Linked DNA regions of Homo sapiens. The protein of the gene in region 4 purifies or fractionates together with the protein of the main gene of each other region. This does not show direct contact. Each region holds a gene or a part of one and is shown on either strand. Other genes may lie near its edges.

Evidence for each region. The genes of interacting proteins can lie anywhere in the genome.
Region 1: the proteins of FBXL17 (region 4) and ZBTB10 purify together in Homo sapiens (affinity purification with western blotting; 3 studies listed by BioGRID and IntAct, with this or other methods). This does not show direct contact.
Region 2: the proteins of FBXL17 (region 4) and SUGT1 purify together in Homo sapiens (co-immunoprecipitation; 2 studies listed by BioGRID and IntAct, with this or other methods). This does not show direct contact.
Region 3: the proteins of FBXL17 (region 4) and ZBTB33 purify together in Homo sapiens (affinity purification with mass spectrometry; 2 studies listed by BioGRID and IntAct, with this or other methods). This does not show direct contact.

Annotation. Positions count from the first base shown.
Region 1 is NC_000008.11:80,516,078-80,520,725, forward strand, and holds part of ZBTB10 (zinc finger and BTB domain-containing protein 10), read left to right. Parts: intron 1-2,325; coding exon 2,326-2,502; intron 2,503-2,704; coding exon 2,705-2,877; intron 2,878-3,145; coding exon 3,146-3,451; 3' UTR 3,452-4,648. UniProt on the Homo sapiens protein: May be involved in transcriptional regulation.
Region 2 is NC_000013.11:52,654,688-52,659,335, forward strand, and holds part of SUGT1 (protein SGT1 homolog), read left to right. Parts: intron 1-2,844; coding exon 2,845-2,935; intron 2,936-3,411; exon of another isoform or gene 3,412-3,520; coding exon of another isoform or gene 3,521-3,539; intron 3,540-3,711; coding exon 3,712-3,781; intron 3,782-4,491; coding exon 4,492-4,562; intron 4,563-4,648. UniProt on the Homo sapiens protein: May play a role in ubiquitination and subsequent proteasomal degradation of target proteins.
Region 3 is NC_000023.11:120,255,207-120,258,898, reverse strand, and holds the end of ZBTB33 (transcriptional regulator Kaiso), read right to left. Parts: coding exon 3,465-3,692; 3' UTR 501-3,464; downstream 1-500. UniProt on the Homo sapiens protein: Transcriptional regulator with bimodal DNA-binding specificity.
Region 4 is NC_000005.10:108,360,323-108,366,119, forward strand, and holds part of FBXL17 (F-box/LRR-repeat protein 17), read right to left. Parts: intron 4,674-5,797; coding exon 4,416-4,673; intron 1-4,415. UniProt on the Homo sapiens protein: Substrate-recognition component of the SCF(FBXL17) E3 ubiquitin ligase complex, a key component of a quality control pathway required to ensure functional dimerization of BTB domain-containing proteins (dimerization quality control, DQC).

The sequences.
Region 1 (4,648 bases), on a different chromosome or scaffold from region 4:
AGGGATATTCTTCTGTCTCCTTTTTCTTTTGAGATGGGGTCTCACTCTGTCACCCAGGCTGGCCTGAATCTCATGGGCTCAAGCGATCCTCCCACAGCCTCTCAAATTACTGGGATGACAGGCACGAGCCACTGTGCCTGGCCTATTTCCTTATTCTTACATGTTGTGAATAATATTTAATTGTAGATACTAGAACATCTAATGTGTCTTTTGGTACTAGTTTTCCAAGTATTTTGAGCAAGTCAGAAGTATGTATTGGCATTTGCTAGATAACATTTATTCTACAAGTAATTGTAGGGCATGTGTCTTAAACAATAGAAAAACCAAGGCAAGTAAGATAGGCGCAGGAGTTTGTACTGATTTAGACAAGAAATATGGATCATAAAGCTCAAACTTTGTTTAGAGATGTGAAACTAACAGTAGGTTGACCTCCACAGGCTACCACTTCCGTTCCATTCTTTATCCCTCACACAGAAATGCTTCACTTTAGGATTCTTACAACTTACTCCCAAACACTAATTAGGTGCAGCTATAATGAGTTATAGTTGAATTTATGTAGCTATGGGTTCAGGGGGCTTTCTTTACATCAAAAACCGGTGACGGTATTCCAAGTACAGCACAGTTTACAGTAATAGTAATGATGTGCAGTTTTAAAATATTTTAGAGACATTTTTACTTTGTTGGGTATTAAGACTTTCACCAAAAAGGAATCTTAAGTTATCTTAATTTTTAAGAGGGACAGCATGTCTGAGAACATATATGGGAAGTGATTCTTAGGAAATCCATTTGGGTAAACATTCTTTACTTTTAAAACCGTGATGCCCATGGGAGGAAAATGTATTATTGCTGCTTGAGTGAACTGTATCTTGGCAAGGAGTGTTTTAGGCAGAGGAAAGCTTAAGCACTTTGAATTGGGAGCATGCTTATTATGGACGAGGAACAGAACAGAGGTCAGTATAGTTGGAATAGAGTGACTGAAAGGAAAGGGTGGTTGGAAGCCAGGGCTCCACCGGGTAAAGCTTTGGAGGATATTGAAAGTCTCTAGCTTTTACTGTGAGGGTGGGTAGTCTTTGCAGCCTTGTAAGCTGAGTGGTGACCTGACTTAAGGTAGTGTTTTAAAGAATCTGTGATTTCTCTGCTGAGAACAGACTCTAGGAAGGCAACAGTGGAAGTAGGGAGACAAGTTTTTGGTGGCTACTGAAGACAGTCCAGGGGCTAGAGCTCATGATTGATTGGATCAGGGTGGCAATAGTTGTGGAAGATTCTGGATATATATTCCTATTGCCAAAAGGTTCCTGGTCCAAGGAATTACATTAAAGATGGAATTAAATCCAGTGGATATAATTCCTGTCCTTGCTAATCTGAAGATCCTTAGGCACATGTATTATTCTATTTTGATTCTATCTTCTGCACGTTATTTTATTTAAGGATGGAGTTAGAAAGAAATTTCAGGGAACCCTGAGAGCATTCAGTTACCTTGCCCTAATATGTCTGAAACAAGGATCTAGTAATAGAACTTTACATTTTTAATTATCCTATATATATTCTTTATTCTTAGTCTATTTTTCTGTACCAATTAATCTTAAAATTATGTGCCTGTCCTGGATTCGTAATAAGGAGAATATCCCATTTGATAGCTGGGCTTTAGGGTGATAAAATCTTAAGTGATAGAGTAGTTAGAAAAAGCAACTATTAGGAGTTCTGGTTTGAATATACCCATCCTTTAAAAGGGTAATTTCTTGTGGCGTCTGCACAATTAAATGATATTCATGTTTTTTTCTCCCGCCCGCCACCTTTTTTTTTTTTTTTTTTTTTTTTTGAGACATGATCCCACTGTGTCGCCCTGGCTGGAGTGCAGTGGCGCAATCTTGAATCACTGCAACTCCCGGGCTCAAATGATCTTCCCCAGTAGCTGGGACTGCAGGCACACACCACCATGCCCAGCTAATTTTTAAAATTTTTTTGTAGAGATGGAGATGGAGTTTCTCCATGTTGCCCAGGCTGGTTGCAAACTCCTGGGCTCAAGTGATCCTTCTGCCTCAGCCTCGCAAAGTGCTGGGATTATATGCATGAGCCACTGTGCCTGGCCCATGATTAATTTTTTTAACTGAATTTCTTCTACTATAGTTGAATGGTATTTTGTTTAATTGTGATAATAAAGTAGGAAGACATCTCAATTTTAGACTAAAATACAGTTTTATTTAACTCATACTATGAAATTCTATCATAATGCCTGTAGGATATAAATATAATTTCTGTTTTCTGACTCTGATGAGAGACAGATCTTTATTACCATTATTAATTCAGAATTTTTACTTGTACTAGGTACTTCACATGATTTCAAGTATGGTTTGATGCCTGGTCCTTCAAATGATTTCAAGTATGGATTGATACCAGGTACTTCAAATGATTTCAAGTATGGATTGATACCAGGTGCTTCAAATGATTTCAAGTATGGATTATTGCCAGAATCTTGGCCAAAACAAGAAACCTGGGAAAATGGCAAGTATTAGTCAACTAAACAAATACAGAATTAATTAAATAATTGTTAACAATTAAAAGCTTTCATGTTCTGCATTTTTTAAAAACCAAGTAGCAGTAGCTCCACATAATTGCTGTTCTCAGAGATAGAGATAAGAAGTTTTGATAGCAAGTTTTCTGTTTAATGTGTAATAAGCACTTTCTCTTTTTTTAATTCTCATAGGTGAATCATCTCTAATCATGAACAAGTTAAAATGCCCTCATTGTAGCTATGTAGCCAAATACAGACGAACACTAAAAAGGCACTTGCTCATTCACACAGGAGTGAGATCATTTAGCTGTGATATTTGTGGAAAACTGTTTACTCGAAGAGAACATGTAAAAAGACATTCCCTGGTAAGTAACTTTAAATACAGCTGATCTTTGAGATAAACTATATTTATGTCAGTGAAGTTTAAAGGGATTTAAACAGTTAATTGTGAATTTAAGGAAGATTGTCTCCTAAATTGCTTTAAACAGTTTGACTTTATGAACTGATAGTGAGCTTTTTACAGAGAAACTGGTGTATTCACTCACTATTAAATGTGTGGTTTAATTTGAGTGGTTCAAATGCATTCTATTATATATAATATCCTTATATTGGATTTTTTCCCCCTCCAATTAGGTGCATAAAAAGGATAAAAAATACAAATGTATGGTGTGTAAGAAGATCTTCATGTTAGCAGCCAGTGTTGGAATAAGACATGGATCTCGACGTTATGGTGTTTGTGTAGACTGTGCAGATAAATCACAGCCAGGAGGGCAAGAAGGTGTAGATCAGGGACAGGATACAGAATTCCCTCGGGATGAAGAATACGAGGAGAATGAAGTAGGAGAAGCTGATGAAGAGCTAGTTGATGATGGAGAAGATCAGAATGATCCCTCTCGATGGGATGAATCAGGAGAAGTTTGTATGTCTCTAGATGATTAACTGACCTACTATACTCCTCAAGGATGCTGCATTTGGACCTAATATGAATCGACAATTTGGATTGTTGAACTTGAAGGCTTGCAAAATATGGTACATGCTGGATAGTAGTTATGTTGCTGTGAAAACTGTAGGGTCAAAGCCTTATAGCAAAAAAAATTTTTTTTTATATTTGCACAGGACTATACAGCAAACAACCATGTGGTTGGATTACATGGAGTCCCCACATACTCAGTCAGTTATCAAAGTAAAATATTTTTTATTTATAGGATATACAGTAACTATTTGGGTCCTATGAAAATAGTCCTTAAAGAGCTTACATTCATGTGCTACTTTAACATGAATGGAGAAAATCCGTTTATGGAAGTACAGTGACAATTGACCCAATCACTCTGTCCATCAAACCACTCAGGCTAGTTTGTACTAGTAGAGTTTTGTTTCTATTTTTATTTTTATTAATTTTATTTTTTTTAATACAGATTTTCAGTGAGGGGCTTTTTCAACCCCATTGGTTCTATTTTCTTGTATTTTTCCATTTAATTTGCTTCATAACTTAAACCAAGTCTCTTCTAGTCTTAGGTATTATTTCTCGATTTTGTGCTGATGGGCATGTTTATAAGAACTGGAGAGGTAATTTATTGGAATGAACTAACTGACTTCCTCCATTCCCCTCTTCCTTTTTGACATGAATTTTACTACTTCACAAATGAAGAATGATGTTATGAAGTTACCGTGGCGAAGTTGACAAATACCACTAAAATGATTATGATTTAGAAGTAACTTTCTTCTGCTGCTCTAATCTGATAAATGGTTACTATATGATATTTTCTGACATGGTATTTGGTTTTGGGTATCTGTTACTTTGGCACTATTCTTGTTTGCCTCTTTATTTTTGCCAGTGTACTATACCTCAGTCCTATTTGAAAGACCTAATTGAAAGAAAAATCATAGAAATAAGTAAAATGATTTGTTTTATAATTTATCCACCATGTCCAGTTTGGTTAGCTTGTTATGCAATATAAGTGAAATATCAGGTTTTTACCCGTGTCCCTTTTATCATGAAAATTAACACAAAATGTGCATTCTCTTTTGTTTCATACTTAGCGGGATATTGATTGTTTTGAAATTATGATCAATACTTAATTTATTTTTTTCTGTCCTTGAAGTCACTACACCTTGATACAGTCTTTCTAGTAGTCA
Region 2 (4,648 bases), on a different chromosome or scaffold from region 4:
AGGTGCTTTATTGAATGTAGACACTCTTTTTGCTTTAATGATTACATAAGTATACATTCATATTGTGTGAAGTAGTAGTTCTTTCGCATTGCTGTGTAATATTCCATTGTATAAATATATGTTGTATAGCCGTAAGTACGGCGCAATTTATTCTAACAGTGGACATCTGGGTTATTTCTAGTTATTAGCTAACAAAAAGCTTCTGTGAATACTCTTGTACATGTATTTTGGTGAACACATGCATTTCTTTTGGTTGTATGTACCTAGGAGAAGAATTGCCTAGGATAGTCATGTGGCTAGTATTAGTACCTTGGTTTTTAATGTATGGCTCTTGGACCAGCATTATCAGCATCACCTGGCAATTCATTAGAAGTGCAGCCGGGCGCGGTGGCTCACGCCTATAGTCCCAGCACTCTGGGAGGCCGAGGCAGGCGGATCACGAGGTCAGGAATTCGAGACCAGCCTGGCCAACATGGTGAAACCCCGTCTCTATTAAAAATACAAAAAATTAGCCGGGCATGGTGGTGGGCAGCCGTAATCAGCTACCTGCGAGGCTGAGGCAGGAGAATCACTTGAACCCTGGAGGTGGAGGTTACAGTGAGCTGAGATCGCGCCATTGCACTCCAGCCCAGGCGACAGTGAGGCCAGGCCATCAAAGGCATTAAATCCCAGCACAGGGTTTTCAGTTTTATCATATGATTATGGAGATCCGTCAAGAATTTGGAGGAAGGAAAATGAAATTTTCTGAATTACAAAACCTACTTTAAAAGCAGAGTAGATAGCGAATTGGAGGAGGCACAAGGGATAGTGGATAGCAGGAAGATGGTAGTGCAGACCGGGTCAAAGATGAATATTTGCATGTAGGGCAGTGATTGAGGGCATGGAGGTGAGTTGTTTTATGTAAAATGCACCGGACTTGGTGACGATTAGAATATAAGGGATGTCTCCTGAGTTTCTGGCTGGGGGAATGTTGTAGGAACTGGTGCCATTCATTTAGATAGCACTTAGGATGATAGCACTTAGAAGATTGCCTTCAGCATGGGGGAATAGGTTTGAGGATAGAAAGTAGTTTTAGATTGTGAATATTTGTATATGAGTTGCCTCTGGGACATTTCAGGTAAAGTTTAGAGAAAACTATATGCTGATGTTGCCCAGGACCACTGTCTAGGCTCAAGATAGACTTGAGTCATCAGCATGCATCAACACATATGTGAAGCCCCCCAGTAGTTAAGGAATCAAAGAATGTTTGTAGAGGGGAAGAAGTCTTAAGTACTGAGCCCAAGGAGAACATTAGTTTTTAAGAGGCAGCAGAATGGTAAGCTGAAAGGCCTGGTTATTATTGTCAAGGGCCACAGAGAGATCAAGTCAGATAGGAATCAGTTGGATTTTATAAGGGGTTATTAGTGACTTTGAGAAGATTAAGACTAGAGAGGCAAATATTTTTGTATTCTATGGCAAAGGAGATGCAGTCAAAGTAGAGACTGGGGAAAAGGCTGAAAAAAGTCTGCAAGAAGAAAAATCAATACTTTTCATTGAGTGATTACTGGATGTCACATACAGATCTAGGCAAGCCCAACACCCTGGAGTCATCTTCAGTTTCTCTTATCCCACATGTTCACCCATTAGCAAGTCTCTCTGCTTCTAATATGTTCCAACTTAATCGTATTTCTTTTCATCACCTCTGTGGCTAACATCCTTTTCTAGCCTAGACTTAATGTAATAGTTTCCTAAGAAGTCTCCGTTTCCAGTCTTGATTTGATAATGTATTTACCATACTGCAGCCAGAATGACATTAAAAAAAAGTAAATTGGACCATGTTCCCCTTACTAACAGTGAACTTTCCATGGCTTTCCATCAAACGTAAGGTCCAAATTCCTTATAACTGCCTGCAAGCTACAAAGTGAGGCCCTTAAAGTAGCATCTTACAGCTTCTTTGCTCTCTTGATTTGAGCCTTACTTTCTGTTGATTGACTGTAACCCCATGTGAGTTGAGGAGCATCTGTATATGTTGCTTTCTGAGAGTCACACTACTAGGTTAAAGCAAAGTCAATGATACATGTGGCTCTTGAAATAATTTTACCATTTAAGAAAACTACCAAATCCCTAGAGTTTGTAGGCAGTTGGCAGAAAATAAAAGTGTTCCTGCACTTGTCTTTGATCTCCCTAATTGTGTAATCTCTTACATCATTATTTTTCCAGCTACCACACCTATATGTTGTGACTGCACAAGTTAAAAAAGTTTCAATCTCTAATGTTAACTCTTGGTAGTTGACATAGCCATCTATTAGATTGTATCTGGGCTTTGAACAGAATATTTAGTTGGGTTTTATTAGAGTTGTGTGCTATTGTTAGAGGCTAGGAGAGGGCCAGGTACACTTGATTGTGTATGTATTGATTGTCTTAACCTCCCTGAGTGCTAGATTTAACTTCTGGTCTTTTTTTATTGCACAGCTTAACATTTTCTAGGAATCTCAAATTCTATATGGTGTTTGAATCTTCTTCAAATTAGTAGGAGGAAATCTGTAATGGTCAATGTGTAACAATTAAACTCTTCAGAATATATGAGCTGATAATAATGATCATTTATTAAGTTCTATAGACCAGGAACTAAAAGCTTTACGGTACAGAGATGCTACATTAGATTGCCTACTTTTGGGAGGAGGGGCAAGAGAAGTGGGGGAGATATTGATCCTTTTATAAGGAAAAACTCCAATATTATATCCGTGTTATCTTTCCTCCAAATAGCTTCTGACAATAAGTTACTTGATTAAAAATTATGTTTTAATTAGAATTTGATGGCTTCTTACAAACTTTTACTGACGCTCCACATGTTTGTTTTTGTAGGAGCTGACTAAGGCTTTGGAACAGAAACCAGATGATGCACAGTATTATTGTCAAAGAGCTTATTGTCACATTCTTCTTGGGAATTACTGTGGTAACGTTTCTTATAAAGTATATTGCCCCCTTTTAATAAGTTACTTATACATTTTACCCATGACAAATTAAAAGTTGTCTTTGAGAATTTTTAAATTGGTCTTTTATACAAGGTAAAGTAGCTCAAATGTGACAGACATGTTGAGCAACACCCATTTAAATTTTATGGATGTCGCTTTTTCCTTCATTGGGTGGAGAATGTATACAGATTTCATTCATAGTTATTGGGTATGCTGATAAAAAATAGCATCACATTTACTATTTGACAGACTATTAAAATGAAATGCTCGTTTAAATTTTTTTTATAAAAAAGAATGTGGCCAGGCATGGTGGCTCACGCCTGTAATCCCAACACTTTGGGAGACCAAAGCAGGAGGATCATTTGAGCCCAGGAGTTCAAGACCAGCCTGGGCAACATAACAAGACCACCTGTATTTAAAAAGTAATGTATTTCTGTATTTTGTACCTTCTGAATAGGGAAAAACTGAATACCTTGAGTAAAATTACATAGAAAATGTTAATGAGACAAGGAGGTGAATTTTGTGACACAGCTGTATTCATTGAAGAGCTTTAAGAAGGAAGCTAAATGTTAAGCCAAAAGGAAGGTACAAGAGTAATATTTATTTGAATTCTATCTTGTATTAGCTTTTCCTAATTTAAAACCATTTGGCATTTCTACCAACTTGAAAACTTAGAAATCTAAAACTGATTCATATGTTGTGTGTATTTGCTAGGATCTATAAATAACTGACTAAAAACCCGTCTTTTTCTACACAGTTGCTGTTGCTGATGCAAAGAAGTCTCTAGAACTCAATCCAAATAATTCCACTGCTATGCTGAGAAAAGGGTATGCAGTAGCTACTCTTCTTGTTGAGCTTGGTATAGATAGTAGGTATTTAATTTGTTGAATGAGTTCATTGCAAGCTTTATATAAGTTGTAAAATTCTGTATTTATACATTATATAGCAGAGATATGATTCAATTTTAAATACAACTTATAGTTCTATTATTTTGTTAACCAAAGTATGTGATAGGAGATCTGTACTTAGTAAATTTTAAAATAGTGATGATTGAAGTATTTGCAAGGTATAGATGAAACTGATAGATTTCACATTGCTTTTTTTTTTTTTTTTTTCAATCTTTTGGAATTTACTATATTTAATTGACTGGACAACATCCTATTCAGCAAAGCTGAATAGGCTACATTTAATGCTATGAAAGCGCTATATCTGTATACTTTATATCCCATCTTGTTTCTGTTGATAAGTATAACTATTCTTTAAGAAACTTCTTTAATTCCTTTGTATAATTATATTTTTGAGTAAGCAAGTCTGTACAATTAAAGTCAGATTCCTTCTGAAGTGAGTTCTAAAATTGAATTTTAGTAGGAATTGTACTAGATCTTAACAGTATATTAGAAAGTCTCTAGGTTTATTAACATACACTTAAAATAAATTTTTTCTTTCAACAGTAGAAAATACTAAGTTTTTTATTTAGAAAGAAGGTATTTTCCAGATTTTTTGTGTGTCTTAATTTGTTTTAAATATATTCATGCAGAATATGTGAATACCATGAAAAAAACTATGCTGCTGCCCTAGAAACTTTTACAGAAGGACAAAAATTAGATAGTAAGTATTAAAAATTATACTTTAATAAACTTATCTATTTCTGTCTTAAATACCAAAGCTGAATTTTGGTAATGTTAATTTCAAGT
Region 3 (3,692 bases), on a different chromosome or scaffold from region 4:
CTCTTTTGCAAAACATTTGCTGTAATGAATGGATTTGTATTTCCAATATGTATCTTGACTGCATTTTGTAATATTTACTGCTTTATTCCTAATTCTGCTTTAAAGTACTGAACTGGGCATGAAACATTAAAATATTAATCCAGAAACTGTATAAACTGGATGTTGCTTAAAATCTGTATCACTGCCATGTTGAAAACTCAGACTGCTTTTGTGATGTTTCAAATGAATAAAACTATCCTCCCCTCGTTATCCACTTGTGTCAAGGTAGCTATAAAAGTACAGCAAACGCTCTAAAGCAACTGACAGCAGCTGACTCACTTTTGACTATTAGGGTTCAAGATAAAAGGGGACATTTTTAACCAACATATAAAACCTAGTGGGAAATTTTGCCGTGCTGTCATCAGAAATACAGCCCCAGTCTCCTGCTATAAAAATTGAAAAACAATATAAAAACCCATATAATTTCTGAAAGACAATCTTGTAAAACACGCACTCAAACATCAGAATTAAATCATTTTATTTTTGCCACAAGAAGCTCTAAGAACTAATATCAGGCCATGGTTAATGAAAAGTAGAACTTAAAGTCATGACAGGGAAGATTGTACAAGTGTGAACATTACAGTACTCGGAGGAATGAACAAGGTTTCATATAGTTGACCAGCCAGAAAGCCAGTGCTGTTAAGTTAGCATTTAATTCTTTAGAATATGCATGCCTTGACAATACAAAATACCTTGATCAGTGTTTACCATTTTTTTATCTTTTTGGTACAATGGGGGAAAAATGCGGCATTATTTCTTCATAGTGGTTGTGTGTGGGGGATCGTTACCACCAAAATCATAATAATCATTTAAAGTATATTTTAAAGTTAGTCTCGCAAGATTGTTATGGCATTTTTAAATTTCTGTAGTTTAAGCATTTTCATTTTGTCATATCTTTTAACAAATTACTATTTCAAGTAGTTCCTATCCAGAATATTTACAGGTAATTTAGCATAGGAGCAAATTTGAAGCTAACTTCAAACAAGAAAAGGAAGTTCAATAGCCAGAGAGCTAAGTATAAGATAAAAAAACAATATGGTAATTTTAAACAGCATCTTGCTACAGATTTCCAATCCAATAAATACCAGGAATGAAGGACTTTTGCCCCAAAGAAGTATTTCACATGAATTCTGAACTTTGGATATGGAAACTTATAGAAAAACTGAAGACCCTGAGACACATGCAAGTAAGAGTCTTCTGGCAAAAATACAATTTAATTTTCCAGTTTCTCTCCTCCCAAAAACTCCAGAAGATACCTTTAGTAGGCACAGAGTTTAAATGTCATATTCAGAATTTACAGAGCACAGCAGCAGCAGCAAATAATTACATACCTATTATTCAGAATGGATAGTTTTCCATTATAGAATTAGTTCCTGGTTTGTCATAATAGACTTGTAGAATCTGCCAAGTTTTATTATGACAAACTAATTGACCTAGCAGTTGAGTCTGAAAGATCTGGAAGCTCTGCCGGCATCCGTATCATTCACATCGGTAGAAGTAATTATGTCTAACTGGTGAAATAGCATTAATGAAACTCAAAACAAATTTTCACTGAGTACATTTCAGAGTGCACACTATAGTCAAAGAGTAATGTTATTAATATCTACACAAAAAAGAAACATATGGTGATTCCAGAGATCACAGAGTCTTAAGTTATCAGGTAATTTCAAATTTCCCAGGGGTTAGTTTACAAATGGTTTGAAGGTCTAGACTTACAGAACAGAAAACAGATAAATGCACATCACTCTACCTCTTGGCAAGCAAAGGATTTTTTTTCTTGTATTATTGCATGAACTGATGCCTGATACCCTCAGCTACCAACTTAAGAAACACTGAAACCACTACCTTCAAATCCAGCTTACCATCAGAAGAACGATGTATACATGAGAAATTATGATTAAAGCTTTAAGTTCAAAGTCAAGAAATAGACTATATTTTAAAATACATGGTCAGGAGAAAGAAAATATCTATGTTGGACTAAGAAATACTTAAGCAAGGTTACAAATGACTAATAACTATGCACAACAATCTTTTCCAGTATCAATTTTTTCCTTTGCAAAAAAAAAAAAAATCATTTACAGACGTTCAACAATTCTGTTATAAATGCTAGGCTATATGTATGTTCCAACCTGTTTTCTTTTAGTACTAGCACAGTTTAGTACTAGCACTTCAGTAAGTGTTAACTTTATTTTCTAAGTGTTTAAATATGTGTCATTTTTAAAAGTGGTATTTATTGTTGTCAAGAAAAATGGGAACTGACAAGCCTATATAACATTCCTTATGTAGTTTCTGATTACTATAATATTGCAGCAATTTGCAGATGGAATAAAACTTATTTTAGAAGGGGTAAAAACCTAACAAATCTTGCCGAAAGGAAAATACTAGATCACTGATTCAACTATTTCAAATAAAGACTTCCTAGTGGAGATTCTACGCAATATGAACATTTAAAAATATATGCCAGTAGCCTCCCACCCAAAATATGTAAAGTCTCACCCATGGAATCTATCATTTACAAGGATTTATACATAAAGATACATTTGGTGGCTTTCAGATTCAAAATTTGAAAATTTTCATGTTCATGGGAATATTTTTAACCTTAAGAAGCCAAAAGGAAATCTTCATTCCATTCTCTACTATGTGGTAGCCAGAGAATTAAAAATCCATGCAACAGAACTTTTCATCTCCTCCTATCTGCCATTACAGAGATTGTTTTCATTAGTTTTTTGCCCCCAGAGACCACACTGCGAAGGTATAAAGTGGTCTAGCCACCAAAGTCTTTTACAGACTATGGCAATGAAAGCCAGGATTAATTCTAATTAGCTAAATCTAATTTGTTCTTCAGATGAGAGACTTGTCTGCATGGCTATTTTCATAGAGGGAGGGTAGCAGGAGGTTGCTGTTCGCTTGGACTAGCAGATTACACAACCCAAGTACTGACTTATTCTGACATTTTCCAGAACAACTCTAAAACTTATTTACTCTTTATGCCATATACAAGACAAAACACACATTTATTGTCTCAATGTTAAGAAAATTGAGAATTCAGCAGTAAAGTGCTAACATGGAAGGGGAAAGCTGTAAGATGTACTAGGGTATGCTAATAACTCCAGTTATTTTCAAAGAACATTCAGACTGCTTCAAATTCTATTCAGGAAACTATCTCTCCAAGCTTTTAATTTTTGCCTCTTTTAAATGAGCTGAAAACTAACTATATAAACAGATACTTGGGGAGGGGGTCTCACCTCTACTCAAAACTTTCAGGAAAATTTGCTTCTAAAAATTATCAACAAAAATCCCACTACACTTCCTTCAGATAATGTGGCAGATCAAATTAACTTGTTCGCACCTTAATTTGTTTTACAGATCTTCTGAAACCCCTGCCCCATCATCCAAAACAAAACTTTCTAGTATTTCAAAGGAGTTTAGTAAGACTCTGGTATTATAAATTCAAACTCAGTACTGCCATCTGTTACATTTTGTTTAAAAATTGAATCATTTTCCTGCTGAATAAAAATATCTTCCCAGGTCATTGGCTTGTTCTGAGTAGATGTAGTGGTCCCTACTGGAGGTTCTTTTCCAGTGTCAACCTTATACCCAATACCATCATCCTTCATTGCAGGAATAGTGCTTGATCTATCGGAAAGATATGC
Region 4 (5,797 bases):
CCCTTGAGTGCCCCTATTCTTTAACAGTTTTGACAAATACAGAATTCTTGCTTGACTTTTTTTTCTTTCGACACTTTAAATATTGTTAGCCCACAGCTTTCTGGCTTCCATAGTTTCTGATGATAAAACAGTTGTAAATCTTATTGAGGAGTGCTTGTATGTGATGAGTCACTTATCTTTTGCTGCTTTGAAGATTCTGTCTTTGACTTCTGACAATTATACTATAATGTGTCTCAGTGTATATCTCTTTGACATTATCCTCCCTGAATTTATTGAGTTTCTTGGACGTATAGATGCGTATCTTCCACCAAATTTCGGAAGTTTGGGCCATTATTTCTGCAAATATTCTTCCTGCCCCTTTTATTTCTCCTTTCCTTCTGGAATTAGCAAAATGTGAATGTTTTTCTGCTTGATGGATGTCCCACCCATCTCTTAGGCTCTACTTACTTTTCTTCACTCTTTTTTCTTTCTCTTTCTTAGACTCAATAAATTCAATTGTCCTATCTTCTTTCTTCCACCTGCTCACTTCGGCTCTTGAATCCCTCTGGTAAATGTTTTATTTCAGTTATTGTACTTCTTAGCTCCAGAATTTCTATTTGGTTCTTTCCATAATTTCTAGCTCTTCATTGACATTCTCAATTTGTTCATACATTATTTTCCTAATTTCCTTCATTTCTTTGGCCATGGTTTCCTTTATGTCTTTGAGCATATTTCAGATAATGGATTTAAAATCTTTAGTAAAATCTTTAGTAAATCCAATGTCCAGGCTTCCTCAAGAATGGGTTCTATTTATTCTTTTTTGTTTTAATGGGTAATACTTTTTTCTTTGCATGCCTTGTAATTTATTGTTGAAAACTAAATATTAAAATATTAGATTATAATGTGGTAACTTGGGAAATTAGATTCTCCCCACTTCCCTACGCTTCACTATTTTTGATTAATCAAGGCTTAGCTTGTGTTCAGCCAGTGTTTTGAAAGAGATTTCCTTGGATGCCAAAGCTTAAAAACAAAACTAAAACAAAAAACAAAAGCACTTATTCAAGTCTTTGCAGACTGGCTCTGTGCTGGGATATTTCTTTAAGACTTAGCCATACCATTCACAACTCTGCCTTGGCCTTTACTTCCTGCTTGTACTGGACCTAGCAAGCACACAGTGATAAAGTTTACAGTCTTCTTAGGTCGTTCCTGAACAAGTGTCCTGCCCTGGGCATGCATGCGGCTTTCAAAATTCCCTTCTATACACTGAGGCTGATTGTCCTAATTTCAAAACAAAAACAAAAATAAAAACAAACTCTCTCCCAGGCTCTTTCTCCTAGGTCAATTGTATGTCTCACCATAATCTATTGCCCAAAGAAGCTTGCTCAAAAGCAAGTTTCTTTCATTTGCCTTATACTGTGTTCAATCAATGCCCACTAATTTTCCTCCCTGACTGGGTTCTAAATTAGGTAAAACAGATATATAAGCACCTGCATCAGCCCTTCAAATAGCTCTCAGGTAGGTTGATCAGACAAATGAATAATTTGCAAATAAGGTCTGCTCTGTTCCCTCTGGAACCAGGGATCTGGGTCCCACACTGGGAACTCGGACTGCTATCTTCAAGACTGTTGCCAAGCTGGGGAATGGGTGAGGCACAGGCAAGTAAAAAACCCACAAAGCATTCTTTCCACCTTTCAGTTGCATTTTTCTTGTCTAGCATTCCTTTGGTTGCTATAAACCTTTGACGTTTCCAGAGTTCTGACAAAGTTGGATCTGATAGTTTAGGCTTGTTTTTCAATGTTTTTTTGGAGAGGCAGGCTTTTGGAGCTGCCTGCTCCAACATTTTGCTGATAGTACTCTAAGTAGTTATTTTTAAAGACCTAAAAATTGATAGCATAGCCAGATCAAAATTTACTAATGTAACATTTATTATTTTTGTACCATTTTATCTGAAAAAAGCCTACAGTGACTTATTTACAGAAATTTCTACTGAGCTCCATGAGCTGGAGTGTTAAACTGCTAAAACTGCATATAATTGAGTCACATAATATAGTAACAATGCATACAATTTCTTAGATATATTTTAATACTTTGACTACTATTATCGTTTGTTTACTGGCAAGTGCTAGATGATAACAAAATATTAGGAAAATTGAAACAGCCCTTTATTCTTAAATAGATTTTTCCTCTAGATACATGATTGTAGTTTTAAAAGATATATACAATAGGAACACATTCCACTGGTAAAATTATTTTGAGTGACTATTATGAAAATAAAAATATAAATATTTCAGGGTGGTATTTCACAAAGAGGATAGTATTCAACCAAAACCAGCCTGATTTTTTTAGGTGCTTCACCATGCTTAAGAAATATTGTTAAGCAGAATCCAATAGTTAAAACATTAGAGTCTACATCTATTAGAGCTCCAAATTGAAATGCTATAAGCAACTGTTTTTGTAAACAAACTGACAGAATTCAAAAGGCACACATATTTGGTATCCGCTAAAGTCAATCAAAATTATAGCAGTTATAAAGAAAATATATTCTAAAGAAATTATCAATAAAATTTACATATATCATTCTAAAACATTTCTCAATTTTTACTGACAGAAGAGGGAAAAAACAGAACCCTGCAACAACTTAATCTGTAGAATCAACAATTCAGTCAATTGCTAAATTAATGAGTTCAAGAAAAAATAACAGTCCCAGGCAAATCATCAATTATGGCTAGTTCCCTCTTAGGCTTTCGTAACTCTATTATACATTTTAACATAGCACTGTCAGTTTACTAAAACCATAATATAAATCCATATTCGGATTTATGAAATATCACTAGGTCATAAAATTAATTTAGTGAGTGGGTCAAGGCCAACATTTAACATAATAGTATAGAACAGAATAGATAATATCCATGTGCATTGCACATAAGGATGTGTATTGTTTCATAAAACTTAATTTCTATTTTATGTATATATGAAAGCCATTCTCTTTCTACTATACCCATAACACTATTCCATCAGAGGAAAGAGTCTATTATGAAATCAGACATACCCAGCTATAGCGGTCTTAAGTACAGAAAAATATTCTCTACACTGCAATGAGATCCTATGTAATTACTTAAGAAGAAAACTACCTAAGGGGAAAAAAATTTGTTTTGCTACTTTTATCAGAATATTACCTCACGTGTAACTAATTCATAATTCAGAAACCATAAATATCCGAAGGAAACATCTAAGTAACAGGCTCCAAAATACCTCACATTCTAGAGAAGATTTACATAATTACTCTCAAAGTTGTAAATATAAGATAAATTCATAATACTTGATTAGCATATTAAATGTTGCTCCTTCTCTACTTCAACCATGACTACGATCTTATTCTTTTTCACAAAAATTACTAGGTATACCCTAAGAAGTCTGCTAAACTACTACCTATTTGTGTTATATCAGAATTAAATATGAAATAGATTTAATCCAGTTCTTAATACATACACCTTTTTAAAATGTTTCATTGTGAAAAATAAATTGCTGAGAAATTTCCATCAAAGTAAATAAAATCATGCTATATACACAAAATATATATTTCTTCATAAAAGATTAATTTAATATGTTTAAGAACTTCATGAAATGCTTTGCTAGTAAATAATCCTGTACATAGCAGAAATGAATCAAGAAAAATATTAAAACAAATAAGACTTTTTGCACAATATGCCTTTGCAAACAAAATAGGCTCCCTTATAAGTTGGTAACATTCTTAATATATAAGTTGTACTGACACACCCAGTACTCACTATTTAGGATAGAGTCTTCCCAAATTTCTTTTCATACCAAGCTTTCAGTTAATTCATACATAAGGTTTAAATTTAAGGATATTCATCTGTTGAATAAATAATCCACTCCGAGCCAAGAAACCTTAAATGCCATTTCCAAAGGAAGTATAATAAACAGAAGGTATGCATAATACTATTTTTAACCCAGTTATTGTACCAAATAGAGGTAATTAGGCCTTTGTTCTAACTTTTATAATCTTCAATTTGGACGTCCATTTATCCCTTAAACATTCAGATATTTAAGCATGTATGTCATCTAGTATAATAAAAGGGGAATTAAAATGTTAATTTTTAAAACCTCATGCTGACCAAAACTACGCAGTTGCCCAAAGCAAAATGTGGTAAAAAATTTAAGTAACAAAAGCATAAATTTATAAAATGGCTGGTCACAGAAGTTCAGGCTCTCACTATAAAACAAAGCAGTTAATTTACTGATTATAACCATGGCACTCTAGTTAACTAATCTAAACAAATATTCATTAATAGGTAAAAAAGATGATTCACTTGAGTCTCTGGGAACTATTTTTAACGTAACCATTTAAAATGTTGTTGCTAGAAAACATTTTTAATTAATTCAAGTAAAATCACTTTATAAATGCTAAAATTTACCTGCTTGAGTCCTTCATCAGTGAGTTTGTCCTGGTTGCCTACATGCACTTTCTGAAGTAAAGGACAGTGAGAGGCAACCGCAATAATAGAGGTGTCAGAAAGCTGTTTACACCTGTAGGCTGTATACCTAAGAAGTCCAGGACATTTAAATGCTAAAACACATACGCCATTATCAGACATACTGCGACAATCAGAAATGTTGATTTCAATTATATTCTGACTTCTTGATGCAATTTTTTCCAACAATTCATCAGTGACCTGTAAGAGAAAAAGCAATAAATTTAAACTTTTGCTAAAAATAAAAACGTATTTTCCATTTTTTAATTAAATGTTCCACAATAAACAATATACTAATTAGATTATAGCATGAACGATATAATCAAAAGAGAAACCGTCTTAACATTGAAGCATAACAAGAATTTGGTATAATAATAATATTGTAATTGGTCTTTGTCCTGAATTCTTGCCACATATTTCCCAAAACTCTTGGAATTTCCTAAGCAATAGAATTTCTTTAGTTATTCATAACAAGCCCTTTAGACCATATCTGAGTTCATACTAATGAAGTGACTTAGAGTGGGGCGCCTAGATGGCTTCAGAATGGGGGCTGGTTACCAGAAAAACTAAACCCTTGATTAGAGGGTGATAACTTTCAACACTACTTACAGGAGAGGAAGGAAGCTGGAGATTGGGTTATAAAAACTCAAATGACAGAGATTCAGATGGTAAACAACATCAAAGTGCTGAGAAGGTGGTATATCCCATACCTTGCCTTCTGCATCTCTTCCAGTGGGCTGGCCCTGAGCTATATCTTTTATAATAAACCCATAAATATAGTAAGTATTTTCCAGAGTTCAGTGAATAGTTGTGGCTAATTATCAAAACTGAGAAAGAAATTAAGGGAACTCACAAGTTTATAATTGGTCAGTGAGAAGTTCAGGTGGCTTCTGGGACTTGCAACTGATATCTGAAGTGTGGGTAGTCTTGTGGGACTGAGCCCTTAAACTCAGTGATACCTCTGGGAGTTAGTTGAACTGAATTGTTGTACATCCAGTTAGTGTTAGAAAATTGTTAGTGTGGAAAAACTCCACATATTTGATGTCAGAAGTGGTATCAGAAAACACCAACAAAGGATATGTGTTCGTCTCATTAAAAGCCTAAAAATCTATCCTTAGTGGGAAAATTCAAATTCAGCAAAAACTCACCACAAATAAAACTATACTGAGATTTTCAATGTTTCACTTTCCATTTGTAACCCATGAAATAGTATACATCAGTAATAATGTTATATGAAAATTCACTTTTACACTTGATATCAGATGATACCACAGCGTGTAAGTTTTTAATCTTTTACTGTTTCTATGAGAAACAATACCTCGCAT